2 separate regions of the Homo sapiens genome follow, and region 2 is linked to region 1. Evidence: fine-mapped expression QTL. A gene starts in region 1. The other region holds a variant in brackets. All regions are shown on one strand. Distances are from middle to middle.

Region 1 (8,534 bases):
GGCTCACGCCTGTAATCCCAACACTTTGGAAGGCGAGGCGGGCGGATCACCAAGTCAGGAGTTCGAGATCAGCCTGTCCAATACGGTGAAACCCCATCTCTACTAAAAAATTCAAAAATTAGCCAGGTGTGATGGCACATGCCTGTAAGTCCCAGCTACTTGGGAGGCTGAGGCAGGAGAATCGCTTGAACACGGCAGGCAGAGGTTGCAGTGAGCTGAGATCACACCACTGAACTCCAGCCTGGGCAAAAGAGTGACTCCGTCTCAAAACAAAAAAATTTCATTATATATTACCGTGTAATACTAATAGAAATAAAGTGCACAGTAAATGTAATGTGGTTGAATCATCCCCGCTGCCCCCAGTCTGTGGAAAAATTGTCTTCCACGAAACTGGTCCCTGGTGCCAAAAAGGTTGGGGACTGCTGCCATACACTGTTCACAGTGTTCTCTGGTAACCGTTTTTTTTAATCTGCAAAGCTCCCTTCAAACATTATTTAACTTCTCAGTTTTACAAAAATATATTTTGAGAGCAGGAAAGAAGCAGCCACACAAAATGGTAGTCCACTGGAAAAGGTCTTAATGTATTTCTTATTTAGTCAGATATACTGTCAATTTTACAATACTAAGGGCACAAACAATTTCGATAATAAATTGGATATTTGTTTTTTGGAAAAGGTCTTTTATCTCTCCTTCCTTCCTTTTTTTTTTTTTCAGGCTCTCATTCTGTCACCCAGGCTGGAGTGCAGTGGTGTGATCACAGCTCACTGCAGCTTCAACCTCCCAGGCTCAAGTGATTGTCCCACCTCAGCCTCCTGAGTAGCTGGGACTACAGGCATGCGCCACCACGCCCAGCTAATTTTTGTATTTTTTGTAGAGACAGGGTTTCACCATGCTGTCTAGGCTGGTCTCGACGGCTAGGCTCAAGCAATCCACTCACCTCAGCCTCCCAAAGTGCTGGGATTAAAAGGCATGAGCCACTGTGCCTGTTGAAAAGGCCTTATTTTCTAACTCAATTCAAACATTTACTGAGGACATACTATGCTAAGTGTACTTGGTGATACAAAAGAGAAAACAACATCTTACAGCCTTCAGACTTTATAATTATCCTGCCTCTTCTCAGCTACTCCAGCATTTTTCCAGTCACCTAAAAGTGTCAAATCATTTGTTCAACAACATATTTCTGGGCTCTTTAAGGGCTTTAGTGGCACTGACAACTTCTTTGTCAAATGTACATTTGAAATGCCCTTTTGTATCAGTCTTCTTTCCTTTTCAATAATATGGCATTAGGCCTTCATTACCCTTCTGCTAGACTGTAACAAAAGCCTCCTAACTGGTGTCTCTGACTCCAGTTTCTCACTCTAATTCATCCTGCTTTTGTCAGAATTGCTCATTGAAAAAACTTGTTAAGCTTGGCACTGTGATGGGTGCTGAGGATACAAGAGATAAGATGTGAACTCTCTAACCTCAAGAAATTTAAAATCTAGTGAGGACGAGAGACGTGTAACTAGACCAGGAGTCATAATCTGTGAGACAGGTGCTCTGACAGAGGAAAGAAGGGAGGAGTGAAACACACAGGGAGGAAAAGGGGGGTGGAAATTTATTTTTTCTTTTACAAATAAAAAGAATGAGAGAAGCAAGGAAATTAACTGATTATAGCCAGTGTGCCAAGTGTGCTTCGCATTTATTATCTTAAATGTAGCCTCCCTTCTAAGAGATTCTTAAATCTCTATTTGATTGAAAAAAATTGAGCTTCAGAGAAGTTTGTTATCTTACCAGCAGTCATACAGCAAGGAAGTGCTGAATGAAGCTGGGACCTAGCTGGATTTGAGAATACATATGCATGCCAGGAAAATCTTGGAGGAAGTACGCTGGAACTATGTCTTAATAAAGGGAAGGATATTCCAAGAAAGGGAACAGATTTTAAAACGTTCAGAGGCAAAACAACACACATAGCAAGTAGCAAGTAGCTTGCAGTGGTGGAGTAAGAAGAAATAGGGAGAAAATGAGAAGAGACAAGCAGATAAATACCTTATTAAAGTACAGATCTGATCGTATCACTGTCTTGTTCCCTCTCACCTACCAAATAAACTGTAACACTACAGTTTAACTGTAGTTAAATGTAGTACTACATTCAGGGCTTTCTAGGATCTTGCAGTGCCAGTCAACTCCCCTCTTCTAGCTTATGCTCTTGCTTAGTATTTTTCAAAGATTACCTGCATTTAGTCGCTTTTGAACCTTTGCATTTTTCCTTCCCCCTGGAATTATCTCTCCCTTTCTCCTCACTCCGTCTCTACAGCAAATCCTACTCATCCTTTAAAATCCAGCTCAAATGCTTCCTAGTCCATGAAGCTTCCCAGTCGGAAAAACTTGCCTTTCCTCTGAATTCATTTAGCACTTTACACGTCTTTTGTGGCATTACCACAAGCTGTCCTGTTTATGAAGACTGGGTATTCAAAAGACCTTTCCTACTTAACAACTATGTGCCCCTAGGCAAATGCCTAACTTCTCTAAGCCTCAGTTTCACCTTCTGTAAAATGGATAACTTCCAACCTGTTTCACATTTATTGTGAATATCCCCTAAGATATTAAAGCTTTTTAAGTATGAAGCACTGCACAAATGGTATTATTAATATGCAGCGTTTGTCCTGAGAGCTCATTTACACCCTTGAAGGCATGTAACCTGTCTCACGCATATTTACGGGCCCAGAGTGCCTGGCACCATGTCTTGTACACAACAGGCGTTCGCGTCGTGTTTGAATTATGAATGCAAGATATAGGACTAAAGTTATAGTCAGGGCAGCTAGGGTGGGGACTCTTGTTGCCCCCGGCAAGGCACGCATTTCTTGTCATCTGCTCGGAAGAAGCTGCAAGGGGAGAGTCCAGTGAGAAAAAGGTTAGACGAAGGAGGCGATGTGACTGAGTCTGGTCTGGGGACAAGCGCAGTCAGCGCAGAATGAGGAGGCCTCCGACGAGAAGCGGTAAAGGAAGGTCTACGTCCGCGCTCCTGTGGAGGTCGCCGGGCTGGGGTTGGCGGCAGAGTCCGCACCTGGCCGGGCCAGCGGCTTTTCGGTCTAAATATCGGGGTTTTCAGCCTGGCCTTAGCTAAGGGAGCAGAAGATCGGGGTGACGGCTGTGGTGTGGCCGCAGGGCTGAGGTGGGGAGGCCGGGAAGAGAGAGTTTCTTCAGGAGGGATCACTGTCTTACCTGCAGCAGCCTCAGTTATGTTTTTGACAACTATAGCAACCAACTACCTCTCGCGAGAACTTACTTTTGGCCATCGCACGAGCAAGTTTATTCCAAGACTCGCGATAACCCTCTGGGGCCGGGAGCAGGGAGCGAGACGCTGAGCTTCTGCGCCTGCGCCCTAGCGCCGGCTGCAGCCTCCTCACTTCGAGAGCCTGCTGTTTCCGCGGATGCTTTACCTTGCCAAGAGTTGGGTTTAAGTGCATAGGTTTCCACCTTTACATTTTGCTTTCTCGACTCTTTGATTTCAATATTTCTCTATAATAGGAGGGAAAAAAGCAAAAGGAAGTTTAAAGAAAAAGGCCTTTATTAAACTGATTTGAAAACATCATTTAAATATTTCTCCGTGAAATATGCAATATTTTTTAAATGAGCCCGTCACGCCCTGTTGATGAGAGTGCAAAATGACCCTGCTTCTAGGTGCTCAATATTTGTACAATAAACAGACCTGAAGTTTATGATGTTAATACAAATTTTTAATATTCAAAATTTAACATTAAAGAGCTAGAATAGCAAAACACAATAGCAATAACCTGGAAACAACCCAAGTGCCCGTCGAAGGAATAGTGGATGAGTGGACCAATAAACTGTGGCATATTCACAAAATGGCATATTACAAGCAGTCAAAGTTAATGAACTGCAGCCATACACACAACACGGATGAATTTTAGCAGTATATATACTTTAAATTGTTGCAGTGTTAAGAGCCAGCTTGAAGGGACTCCCATGGGCCAAATAAGGGACAATTTGAGCATGAAGTAAACAACGACGATAACGGATTACAACCCATTGAATAAAATAGGAATATGCAAGTCCGTGTTGATACAGAGAAAAAGGAAAACTCTTTCAAAGTAGGATGCCAACCCAGAAGTGTAGCGAGAAGGATGGAAATAGAGAACTACCATTTGACAACTACTGAGGAGGATGACTCAGGCAGGAGTCTTCAATGGACGCTAAGGCTGGTGGGTAGATGTTCTATGAGGCATAGAATACTGGCGTGATTTTGGAATGCTTCCATGGAATACTACTTGATTACAGAGGGGGAAACAGTGAATGGACGCAACCAACATGATCAGGTGATCATGGTTAACATCACCAGTGTTGGGAGGAGTCTACATTGTGAGCCTCCTGGTGAAACACACTAAAAAAAAACACACACACACACACAAAGCATCCTTTTTGGTTTTCCTACCATGAAAGGAACTCAGGTTGTAGACCATCCAAGGACAAGAAAGACTGGGAACTGTCTCTGACTGAGGTTATATGACAACTAAATTCAATATGTATCTCTGTATAGCATTCTGGACCAGAAAGGAAAACAACATTGTTAGGACGGTGGGAAAAATGTGAATTAGCTCTGTGAATCGCATACCACCCCGAACATGCCCAATCTCATCTGAATTGGATGGTAGTGTTGTACCAATATTGATTTCCTGATGTGGAAGTTTGTTTGTTGTTAGGTAGGAGAGTGTCCCTGTTTAGGGGAAAATAAACACTAGTGTGTTTAGGAGTGATGAGACACCATCTCTTCAATTTGCTCTCTTGACTTTCAAAAGGTCCAGAAAAAGACTAACAAGGGATACATACACATGTACACACACATATGCACATGCATGCACACCTGCACACATACACACACAGTGAGCAATGGAACAAGTGCAATAAAGTGTTAACTATTTGGGAATCTGAGTGCAGGGGACATGGGACTTCCTTACACGATTTGGGCAACTTTTCTATACATTCGAGATCATTTCAAAACAATTAAAATATATACACACGCATAACCACTCTCCCTGGGAAGCCCTTTGCTTAGGAAATAGTTACCAGAGTCAAATTTTAAAATTTTTATTTATATGAATAAAGAAACATTATAAATATTGAGAAATATTTTTTGAAAGTTGCAGTGTTACAGGTAATAAAGGTTCTCAAAATAAAACTACTGTGGCACTACTGAGTAAGGATTTCTCTCTGGATTTTTTTTCCCAAGTGAGAGTTTTGGGTGAATTTGCACTGAGACAGCTATCCCACTTGCAAATGACAGACTCTTTCTACATAATAAGCTGGGTTAGGCCAAGTCTTTAATAGGGAGCTGTTCTTCCAGAAATCGCTCATGATCTTGGTCTACTTAGTACTTTGCTTCAAGGTCTTAGGCAAGCAAGGATAAATAACAGATGTCACCTCCTTAAACATAATTAATCTCCATTCAACTTTAGGGTACCTGAGAGCAAGGGCTGTATGTTACAATTTTCTTTTTTTTTTTTTTTAAGATGGAGTCTCACTCTGTAGCCCAGGCTGGAGTGCCGTGGCGCAATCTGGGTTCACTGCAACCTCCACCTCCTGTGGTCAAGTGATTCTTGTGCCTCAGCCACTGGAGTAGATGTGATTACAGGCACCCATCACCACGCCCGGCTAATTTTTGTATTTTTAGTAGAGACAGGGCCATGTTGGCCAGGCTGGTCTTGAACTCCTAACCTCAGGTGATCCACCTGTCTCAGCCGCCTAAAGTGCTGGGATTACAGGCATGAACCACCATGCCCGGCCTTTTTTTTTTTTTTTTTTTCTTTATTGAGACAGTCTTGCTCTGGAGTTCAGTGGCATGATATGATCTCGGCTCACTGCAACCTCTGCCTCCCGGGTTCAAGTGACCCTCCCACCTCAGCCTCCCGTGTGTGTGTGTGTTACAGTTCTTTTATTCTCCTACAGTGCTTAGCAGTGGCCACTCTGTTTGAAAGGCATTCTTTTTGACTGATTTAAAACATCCACTTGTGTATGGAAAAAGCCCTCTTTAGTGGTATGGAAAATATAATAGTACTGGAATCATAATAAAATCATCTACATATGCAAACCAATTTCAGGGAAAAAAACTATAAAAATATCTTTCTAATAAAATTTGAATGCCTTAGTCTGAGTTTCAAAGGCCTCCATTAAATGATGCACTAGCTCAACAAATTCCTTTCTCATTACTCCAAAAGACTTGTTTCTAATTAGCTAATTTGTTACTTCCAAAGTCAACATATTTCTGACAATAATACAATCAAATGTATTGCTCATCCCCAAATTGATCTACAGATTGAAAGCAATCACTATGAAAACCCCAACTGTTTTTTTTTTCTTTCAGAAATTAACAAGCTGATCTTAAAATTCATATGGAAATGCAAGGGACCCAGAGTAGCCAAAACAATCCTGAAACAGAAGAACAGTTGGAAAACTCACACTTCCCAATTTCAAAACTTTCTACAAAGCTGCAGTAATCAAGTAACGAAGACAGTAATAAAGACATAAAGATAGCCATATAGATCAAAATAATCAATTGAATTGAGAGTTCAGAAATAAACTCTTACATTTACGGTCAACTGATTTTTAACAAGAGTGCCAAGATGATCTACTGGGATGTGGGAGGGAGGGGGTAATATAGTCTTTTAAACAAATGGTACAAGGAAAAACAATGTCCACATGCAAAGAATGAAGTTGGACCCTTACCTCACACCATATACAAAAAATAACTCAAAATGGACCAAAGACCTAAATGTAAGAACTAAAACTATAAATTTGAGGGTTTTCTATTTCTGTGAAGAATGTCATTGCAATATTGATAGAGATTGTGTTGAATCTGTGGAGCACTTTGGGAAGTATGAACATTTTAATAATGTTAATTATTCTAATCCATGAACATAGGATACTATTTGTGTCTTCAGTTTCTTTCATCAATGTTTTGTAGTTTTCATTGTAGAGATCTTTTGCCTACTTGGTTAAAACTTCCTAGGGTTTTTGTTTTGTTTTTTGTAGCAATTGTGAATGGGATTGCTGTTTTCTTTTTCAGATAGTTCACTATTGGCATATAGAAATGCTACTGATTTTTGTATGTTGCTTTTGTATCCTGCAACTTTACTGAATTTATTACTTCTAGCAGTTTTTTGGTGGAATCTTTAGGGTTTTGTGTGTATAAATTCATGTCATCTGCAGACAGGAAGTTTGACTTCTTTCTTTCCAATTTAGATGCCCTTTGTTTCTTTCTCTTGCATAATTACTGTGGCTAGGACTTCCAGTACTATGTTGACTAGAAGTAGTGAAAGTGGCTATCCTTGTCTTGTTCCAGATTTTAGAGAAAAAGCTTTCAACGTGTCCTCATTCAGTATGTTAGCTGTGTGTCTGTCATACATGGTCTTTATTTACAAACTATGCATCTGACAAGGGGTTAATGTCCAGAGTATATAAGAAACTCAACACCAAAAAAAAAAAAAAAATCCAAAAAAAAAACCCCACAAATAATCTGATTTTAAAATGGACAAAAGATCTAAATAGACATTTCTTGAAAGTATACAAATGGCCAACAGATATATGAAAAAATGCTCAACATCACTAAATGTGATGGAAATGCAAATAGTGTATCTACACAAACCTAGATAGCGTAGCCTGCCACATACCTAAGTCATATAGAGTATATCCTATTGCTTCTAGGCAACAAACAGGTATGGCATGTTATCATACCGAATACTGTAGGCAATTGTAACACAATGGTAAGTACTTGTGTATCTAAACATAGAAAAAGTACAGTAAAAATATGGCATAAAAGATAAATAGTACACCTGTAGAAGGCACTCACAATGAATGGCACTTGCTGGCCTAGAAGTTGCTCTGGGTGAGTGAAGGAATGAGTAGTGAGTGAATTGTGAAGGCCTAGGACATTACTGTATACTACTGCAGACTTAACAAACACTATATAATTAGGCTACACTAAATTTATTTTAAAACTTTTTAATAATAAATTTAATTTAGCTTACTGTAACGTTTTTGCTTCCTAAACATTTTTTTTTCCCTTGGAGACACGGTCTCATTCTGTCACCCATGCTGGAGTGCAGTGGCATGATCATGGCTCACTGCATTCTCAGTCTCCTTGGGCTCAAGCAAACCTCCTGCCTTTTTGTATTTTTTGTAGAGATGGGGTTTCACCATGTTGCTCAGGCTGGTCTTGAATTCTTGGGCTCAAGTGATGCACCTGCCTCGGCCTCCCTAAGTGCTGAGACTACACGCGTGAGCCACTGCACTCAGCCTAAACTTCTTAACTTTTTGACTCTTACAGCTATACAAAAATATTTTCTGTATGTCCTTATAAGCTTTTTATTAAAAAATTATTTTTTACAGGCCTTCTACAGGTGTACTCATGCCTGTAATCCCAGAACTTTGGGAGGCTGAAGTGGGTGGATCACAAGGTCAGGAGATCAAGACCATCTGGCTAACATGGTGAAACCCCGTCTCTACTAAAAATACAAAAAATTAGCCAGGTGTGGTGG
Region 2 (8,000 bases), 940 kb before region 1:
ACATAGTGGCTGATCGATAAATATTGAATATAAATGTGAATATAGAATTACAGAGTTCTTTGCATACATATTTTTCTCTTACTAGACTATTACAGACTTAAGAAATATATATAGTTGTGCTGGGTGTGGTGGCTCACGCCTGTAATCCCAGCACTTTGGGAGGCCAAGGCGGGTGGATCACGAGGTCAGGAGATCGAGACCATCCTGGCTGACATGGTGAAACCCTGTCTCTACTAAAAACACACAAAAAATTAGCCAGGCGTGGCAGTGGGCACCTGTAGCCCCAGCTACTCAGGAGGCTGAGGCAGGAGAATGGCATGAACCCAGGAGGCGGAGCTTGCAGTGAGCCGAGATCAGGCCACTGCACTCCAGCCTAGACAACAGAGCAAGACTCCGTCTCAAAAAAAAAAAAAAAAAAAAGAAATATAGTTGTAAGGATAAGGGAAGGTCTTTTTCACAGCACCTGGCTTAGTGTCTTGCACACAGCAATGTCTGCCATTGAACTGAGTTATAATTTTCAATTTCATCCTTAAGAAGTTACTAGTTAGTAGCTTCTGCATTCATAAACATAGAGGATCACCACTGTGAATTACATTTATGAAGTCTCAGAAAACTCTTTGTTAAATAAAAACATGGTGGTTTTTCAGAGCATCAATAGAGTAATTTTTGTCAAGCACGGCAGGTTCCCCAGTTCTTCAAACTATTACTTAGAGATAAAACAGCTAGAGACACTGATGGAGCATTGCATCTCTCGAGCAGTGGCTCATAAGCCTAGCTGCACATTAGATTTACCTGGGGACCCTTTGTATTAGTTCGTTCTTATGCTGTTAATAAAGACATACCTGAGACCAGGTAATTTACAAAGGAAAGAGGTTTAATTGACTCACAGTTTTGCAGGGCTAGGGACACCTCAGGAAACTTACAGTCATGGCAGAAGGGGAAGCAAACATATCCTTCTTCGCATGGCAGCAGGAAGAAGAATGAGTGCCTGGTGAAGGGGGAAGCCTTTTATGAAACCATCAGATCTCATGAGAACTAACTCATTGTCATGAGAACAGGATGGGGGAAACTGCCCCATGATTCAATTATCTCCACCTGTTCCCTCCCAGGACATATGGGGATTATGGGAACTACAATTCAACATGAGATCTGGGTGGGGACACAGCCAAACCATATCACCCTTTAAGAAACACTTCTGGAATTTCTCATGCAGAGGGTTAAGAAAACCCCAGAACACTGATGCCTGGACCCACCTACTGAGCCTCTGATTTAATTGATTTGAAGAGGGCCCAAACAACCACATTCCTTAAAAATTCCTCAAGTGATCCTATAGTAGAGAAGCACTGCTTTACAGGAAGAGTATGATTAGGAGAAACAGCACTTTCTTAAGGAAAAGACAAGATCTGGAATAGGAAGCCTTGGATTTTAGACCAGACTCTGAATGGGTTATTAACTTCTCTTTCTGTCTCTATATTCTCAAAAATACAGTATCTAACAAGGCTGTTAGAAAGGAAGAGAAAAATGGCTGTGAAACATTGCATGGTCATTAATTTATATGCAAAAATTTAATACCACCACTAGGACCTTCAATCTCTTAGGTCTTGTTTGATACCTTGATACAGAACCTCACACAGAAACTGATTAATGTCAGCCAAATGAAAACTTACATTTTCATGTTAACAAATCCAAAGTGGAATAAAAGAAGCAATTAGAAAGCAGATGGTGATTCCCCTTTTATAGGAAATGGTCCTAGAGAGATGGACTCGTAACCTTAGGAGCAAAGGCCCTTCCTTGACACTCACTTTAGTTAATTGCTATGTTCACAAACTATTTAATCAACATGAGAGGACAATCAATCTTAATCTCGTTGCTAACACAGGCTAGAAATTCTGGGCCAAAAGTAATTTAACACCGCAGATTTTCATCATCTGACAAAATTTGTCCTTTCATTTTAGAGCTCTTTTGCAAGGTCTTCAGATCCTAAATTAACTCCTGCCAATGCTCAAATACTCTTCCTTCAAGGGAGATGCCTCCAATGCCCCTTATTGCTTTTAAGTGTAAACTCACAATGAAATATGAATTCACCTATCATGATAGATAATTAAAGTCAAATCAATATCTGGACCAACCTTTAAAAATAAGCATGGTCTAAATAAACGAGCATGTCTGAATGTAAACACTATTCTTCCAGCATAGGGGTAAAAAATCCACCTATACATTCGTAATCAGTTTTTTGAAATTACGATTTCCAACAGATATAAGCTAAGTATTGGGTACTGTAGAAGTGCTCTATGGGAGATAAATGTTTTTTCTCTGTCACTTTCCATTAATGATGAGTCTTCCCCACAGCCAAGAGAACACCTGCTGTGGGAAAAGGCTGGACTGAGTTCAGAGAAGCTGACACTTCCTCTCAGAGCCAGCCTGCCCTCATTTGCAGCCCACAGCCTGGTTCAGAGGTCCTTTCAACTTTTCAATATCCAAGACAAGGAGGAAAAAGTCTGGCTGATAAGAAGGGTTTTCCACCAAGTTAGGGCAATGCTATGCATGCAACATTTCTTGCACAAAGACTAACTAGGAAAACTGGGACAAGCACTAGCAATCCTCTATCTTATTTTCAATTATTGAATCTTTAAAGCTAGAAGGGCCCTTACAGCAAGCATCTAGGATAAGCCTCTCAATTCATGAGGCCAGTAAGGTTAAGTGATTTGTCTAATGACTATGGGAACCTCTGAGGCAGAAGTTAGTCTCAAGTTTTCCATCTTCATGCCTACCATGCCACACTATCTTGGTGATATGGTTTGGCTGTGTCCCCACCCAAATCTCGAATTGTAGCTCCCATAATGCACATGTGTCGTGGAAGGGACCTGGTGAAAGGTAATTGAATCATGAGGGTAGGTCTTTAATGTGCTGTTCTTTTGATAGTAAGTCTCACAAGATCTGATGGTTTTACAAAAAGGAGTTCCCCTGCACATGCTCTCTTTCTTGCCTGCCACAACGTAAGACGTGTCTTTTCCTTTTTTTTTAAGACGGAGTTTCGCTCTTGTTACCCAGGCTGGAGTGCAATGGCGCGATCTCGGCTCACCGCAACCTCTGCCTCCTGGGTTCAAGCCATTCTCCTGCCTCAGCCTCCTGAGTAGCTAGGATTACAGGCATGCACCACCACGCCGGGCTAACTTTTTGTATTTTTAGTAGAGAGGGGGTTTCTCCATGTTGGTCAGGCTGGTCTCCAACTCCCAACCTCAGGTGATTTGCCTGCCTCGGCCTCCCAAAGTGCTGGGATTACAGGCATGAGCCACTGCGCCCAGCCATAAGACATGTCTTTTCTTCTCCTTTGCCTTCCGCCGTGATTGTGAGGCCTCCTCAGCCATGTGGAACTGTGAAATCAAACCTCTTTCCTTTATACATTACCAGTCTCGGTATGTCTTTATTAGCAGCATGAGAATGGACTAATACACTTGGAAATCTCTCATGGAACATTTTTAGTGCCAGGTTAGATTCTTGGTCATGGTCAGATGGTAGCCATTGTCCAGTGGGAAGAGTACTGGGCTGGGAATGAGAAAATCTGGGTTCTAGCCTTAGCACTGCTTTGTGTGTTTATGTGTGTGTGTTCTCTTAGAGGCCTGGATTTTTTTTTTTTTTAAGACAAGGTCTCACTCTGTCACCCAGGCTGGAGTGCAGTAGCATGATCATAGCTAACTGCAGCTTCAACCTCCCCAGGCTCAGGTGATCCTCCCACCTCAGTCTCCTGAGTAGCTGCGACTACATGCACGTGCCACCATGCCTGGCTAGTTTTTGTATTTTTTGTGGAGACAAGGTTTCGCCACTTTGCCCAAGCTGGTCTTGAACTTCTGGGCAGGAGAATCACTTGAACCCAGGAGGCGGAGGTTGCGATGAGCCGAGATCACGCCATTGCATTCCAGCCTGGGCAACAAGAGCGAAACTCCGTCTCAAAAAAAAAAAAAAAATAATAATAATAATAATAATAATAAAAAGAAAAGAAAAATAAAAAGAAAAGACACGTCTTACATTGCGGCAAGTCTTGAACTTTGATTCTCCTGCCTCGGCCTCCCAAAGTGCTGGGATTACAGGTATGTGCCACCATGCCTGATGAGGACTGACCTTTTAACTGGTCTCTGCTTCTGTTTGTTCATCTCTCTCTCAGATGCTGATTCAGTCCTATCATCTTTTCTTT[C/G]TTTCTTTTTTTCTTTATCTTTTTTTTTGAGATAGAGTTTCGTTCTTTCTCCCACGCTGGAGTGAAGTGGTGTGATCTTGGTTCACTGCAACCTCCGCCTCCCTCTGCACCCTCCCTTCCCCGGGTTCAAGCGATTCTCCTGCCTCAGCCTCCTGAGTAGCTGAGATTATAGGCGCCCACCACCACGCCTGGCTAATTTTTGTATTTTTAGTAGAGACAGGGTTTTGCCATGTTGGCCAGGCTGGTCTTGAACTCCTGACCTCAGGTGATCTGCGTGTCTTGACCTCCCAAAGCGTTAGGATTACAGGCGTGAGCCACCGTGCGCAGCCACCATCTTTTCTTTCCTTGTACCAGGGGCAGCTGGCGTTGAAGGGTACCAGAGAGCAGTGTTGCTAGTGTTCCACAAATCCATGTTCTCCAACCTCAAGGCTGCTCAAAAAACTCTAACTCATCTCCTAAATTCTAATAGGCTTATTATCAGTCTTTTTGTTTCTATGCTTGCTCTTCTCCAAACTATCTTCCATAAAACAGCCAGAGTTGTCTCTTTAAACGTACATACAACCATGTCATTTCACTACTCACAACTATTTAATGGCGTTCCATTGCACTGTGAGTGAACTCCAAACTCCCTCCATTCCTATGAAGTCTTGCATGTTCTGTTCCTCATATCCCTCTCTGAGCTCAGCTCAGGCCACTCTCCTTTTTGCTCAGAACCTTCTATACAAACTAGTCCCTTTTCAGTTCTTCACACATACCAGGTTTGTTTTTCCTGCTTGTTATGGACTGACCCCACCCCCTACCCCATTCATATGTTGAAGCCCTCCCTAACCCCTACTGTGCCCAATGTGGTTGTATTTGGAGATGGGGCCTTAGAGGAAATAACAAGGCTAAATGAGGTCACAAGGGTGGGGCCCTAATCTGCTAGGATTAGTGTTCTTATAAGAAGAAACACAAAGAGATTTCTCCCTCTCTTCATGTACACACACTGAGGAAAGCCTGTGTGAGGACACATTGAAAAGGCAGCTACCTGCAAGGCAGGAGGAGAGCTCTTATCAGAAACCAAATCAGCTGGCACCTTAATCACAGGATTCTATCCTCCAGGAATGTGAGAAAATAAATTTTTCCTGTTAAAGCCACCCAGTCTGTGGTATGTTGTTACAGAAGCCCCAGTAGGCTAATACACTGCCTTGGAATTTGCCTATGTGATTTCCCACTTTCCAGAGCCTCCTCTTCCACCTCTCTCCTTTCTCTGCTTCTGTACTTTTCATCGAATAGGGATGCCTTCCAACTAGACTACTCTAATGAAACAGCCCTCTCAAAGGTCACCAATTACTGCCATTTCACCAAAACCAATGGATGTTACCACCTTTAGCTTACTGGATCCTCGCTGTTATATGTGACATGGTAGACCCCTCAGTTCTTGAACCTTCTATTTCCTTGACTTTGATTTCACTACTCTCTTTAGGTATTCTTTTTTTTTTTTGAGATGAAGTCTCACTCTGTTGCCCAGGCTGGAGTTCAGTGGCATAATCTTGGCTCACTGCAACCTCTGCCTCCTGGTTTCAAGTGATTCTTGTGCCTCAGCCTCTGAGTAGCTGGGATTATGGGCACGCGCCACCATGCCCAGCTAATTTTTGTATTTTTAGTAGAGATGGGGTTTCACCATGTTGGCCAGGCTGGTCTTGAACCATGACCAGCCCATGACTGAATTCTTTATTTTCCCATCTAAACCGGTCTCTCCTTTAAAATTCTCAATTTCAGTTGGTGCCACCCTTTCCTGAACAAGAAACCTGGGATGATTCTGGACGCTCTCCTCTTCCTCACCCATTGCTTATTTCTTTTCTCCCTACGGACCTCAGGTACCAGAAATGAATTAGGTGTAATCATTGGTTCATGAAATACTCTCATCATTATGTTAATACCTTCATATTAAATAATAACCATACATTACCACGGTTTCTCTTCTTCCTCCAGCCAAAGCTACCTACCTTTCCTTCTTTGAAGTGCTTCTTGAGCTGCCTCTGCATGGCGGTCAGCTTCTTGGACTGCACCCCACTGTAGGCAAGTAGCATGCCACCAAACTGCCTCTCAGTAATTCTCCCATCCACAGGGTCATGGCGTTCAAACTGGGAGGGAAACAGAAAGAATGTTCCTAGGGTCAATGGAAAGTATTTTGACGTGGAACACGGAATGATCAGCTGTGTTTGATGGCAGAAAATAGCTGATGACTGGGACTATATTTTTGAGGTACAATTCTCAGTAAGATCTGCAAAAACTAAGAAACAGAAGATATAGGTTCTTATCCCAGATCTGCCACTTACTATTGTCAGAGACAGTCAAGCCAGAGCAACAGCATCTTGAGTAAGGTCTAGGAAAGATGAGGCTGGGACTTGCTGGGCTGCATTCCCAGGAAGTTAGGTATTCCTAGCCTCTAGATGTTTATGGTTAACGGAACAGATGGATAACATTTACTGATCAGACCCAGACTCAGCAATATCCCGATATCCTGATATCTTATGAATGGAAGCATTCCTAATTTTGCTTTAAAGATAATAATATTGATTACTCTTCTAAAAAATTCATAAAGGTCTGAGAGCATAATTTTAAAGAAGAGTAATATATTTTCAAGTTTCCCCAAAATAGCAATAAAATGTTAGGACATTGATAGAGATAGGACTTACATATGAGACACGAAATAAGAAAGTTAAGAGTGAATTTCTCTTTCAGCTCTCATTTCTTCAGCTAGCTCAGTAAGTTGACAGAGACCTAAATTTGTTTCCTTAGTAGTGGGACTGTGTCAATGAGCAAAACATAGAACTGTATTTTAATACAATTACTTTTGTATCAACCTATAACAGTGACCATTTCCCCCCCACCTTTTTTTTTAAGACGGAGTTTCACTCATCATCCAGGCTGGAGTGCAATGGTGCGATCTTGGTTTACTGCAACCTCTACCTCCCAGGTTCAAGCGATTCTCCTGTCTCAGCCTCCCGAGTAAATGGGATTACAGGTGCACACCACCACGCCTGGCTAATTTTTGTATTTTTAGGAGAGATAGGGTTTCACCATGTTGGCCAGGCTGGTCTTGAACTCCTGACCTCAGGTGATCCACTGGCCTCGGCCTCCCAAAGTGCTGGTATTACAGACATGAACCACCATGGCTGGCCTAACAGTGACCATTTACTGAGTATGTACTATGGGCCAGGTACTTCACCAATATGTTCTTTTTTTTAATTACTTTTTTTTTTGTAAATAGAGATGGGGGTCTTGCTATGTTGCCAGGCTGGTCTTGAACTTCTGGGATCAAGCAATCTGCCTGCCTTGGCCTCCTAAAGTGCTGGGATTACAGGTGTGAGTCACTGTGCCTGGCCTCATATAGTCACTATAACAGCCTACAGAGCAGCTACTATTAGCTCCACTCTGCAGATGAGAAAACTGAAGTAACATGCAGCTACATGTGACAGAGCTGGGATTTGAACTCAGCCTTATTTGGGTCCAAAGACTATCTCTCAACACCACACCATTTCCTACTTCTGAGCAGTGGCACATTCGCTTCCTGTACAATAGCACTGTGTTGTTTTGGATAAACTTATACAGCCATGGGGCTTAGTCACATTTAAATGAGACACAAAACTATGTCTAAAGAAATCAACATCATCAATATTAGGTGAAAGCCTCTTTTTCAACACTGCCACTCAATTTTTGATGTTTGTCACACCATCTTTCTATAGAGCTGATAAATTTTTGACAATACCAAAAGTTTTCAGGATTCAATTTAAGTGTGATTTATGACTCAATTTACTATCCT

Evidence for each region. PIP is the estimated chance that this variant, and not a neighbour inherited with it, causes the effect.
Region 2: its variant is the best candidate, but not a certain one, in a credible set for the expression of CFAP70 in whole blood (INTERVAL, PIP 0.74).

What each region holds. Positions count from the first base shown.
Region 1 is chr10:73,355,510-73,364,043 of GRCh38, forward strand. It overlaps CFAP70 (cilia and flagella associated protein 70), which reads right to left and starts at 3,355. Exons shown (of 28, transcript NM_001367801.1): 1 at 3,269-3,355. RefSeq lists enhancers at 2,498-3,023, 2,960-3,179, 3,024-3,549.
Region 2 is chr10:72,417,054-72,425,053 of GRCh38, forward strand. It overlaps MICU1 (mitochondrial calcium uptake 1), which reads right to left. Exons shown (of 12, transcript NM_001195518.2): 9 at 6,181-6,318. Among named protein-coding and RNA genes, the nearest start is that of DNAJB12, 66 kb to the left of the region's middle. RefSeq lists an enhancer at 5,500-6,233. The variant C/G (reference allele first, on the strand shown) is at 4,193.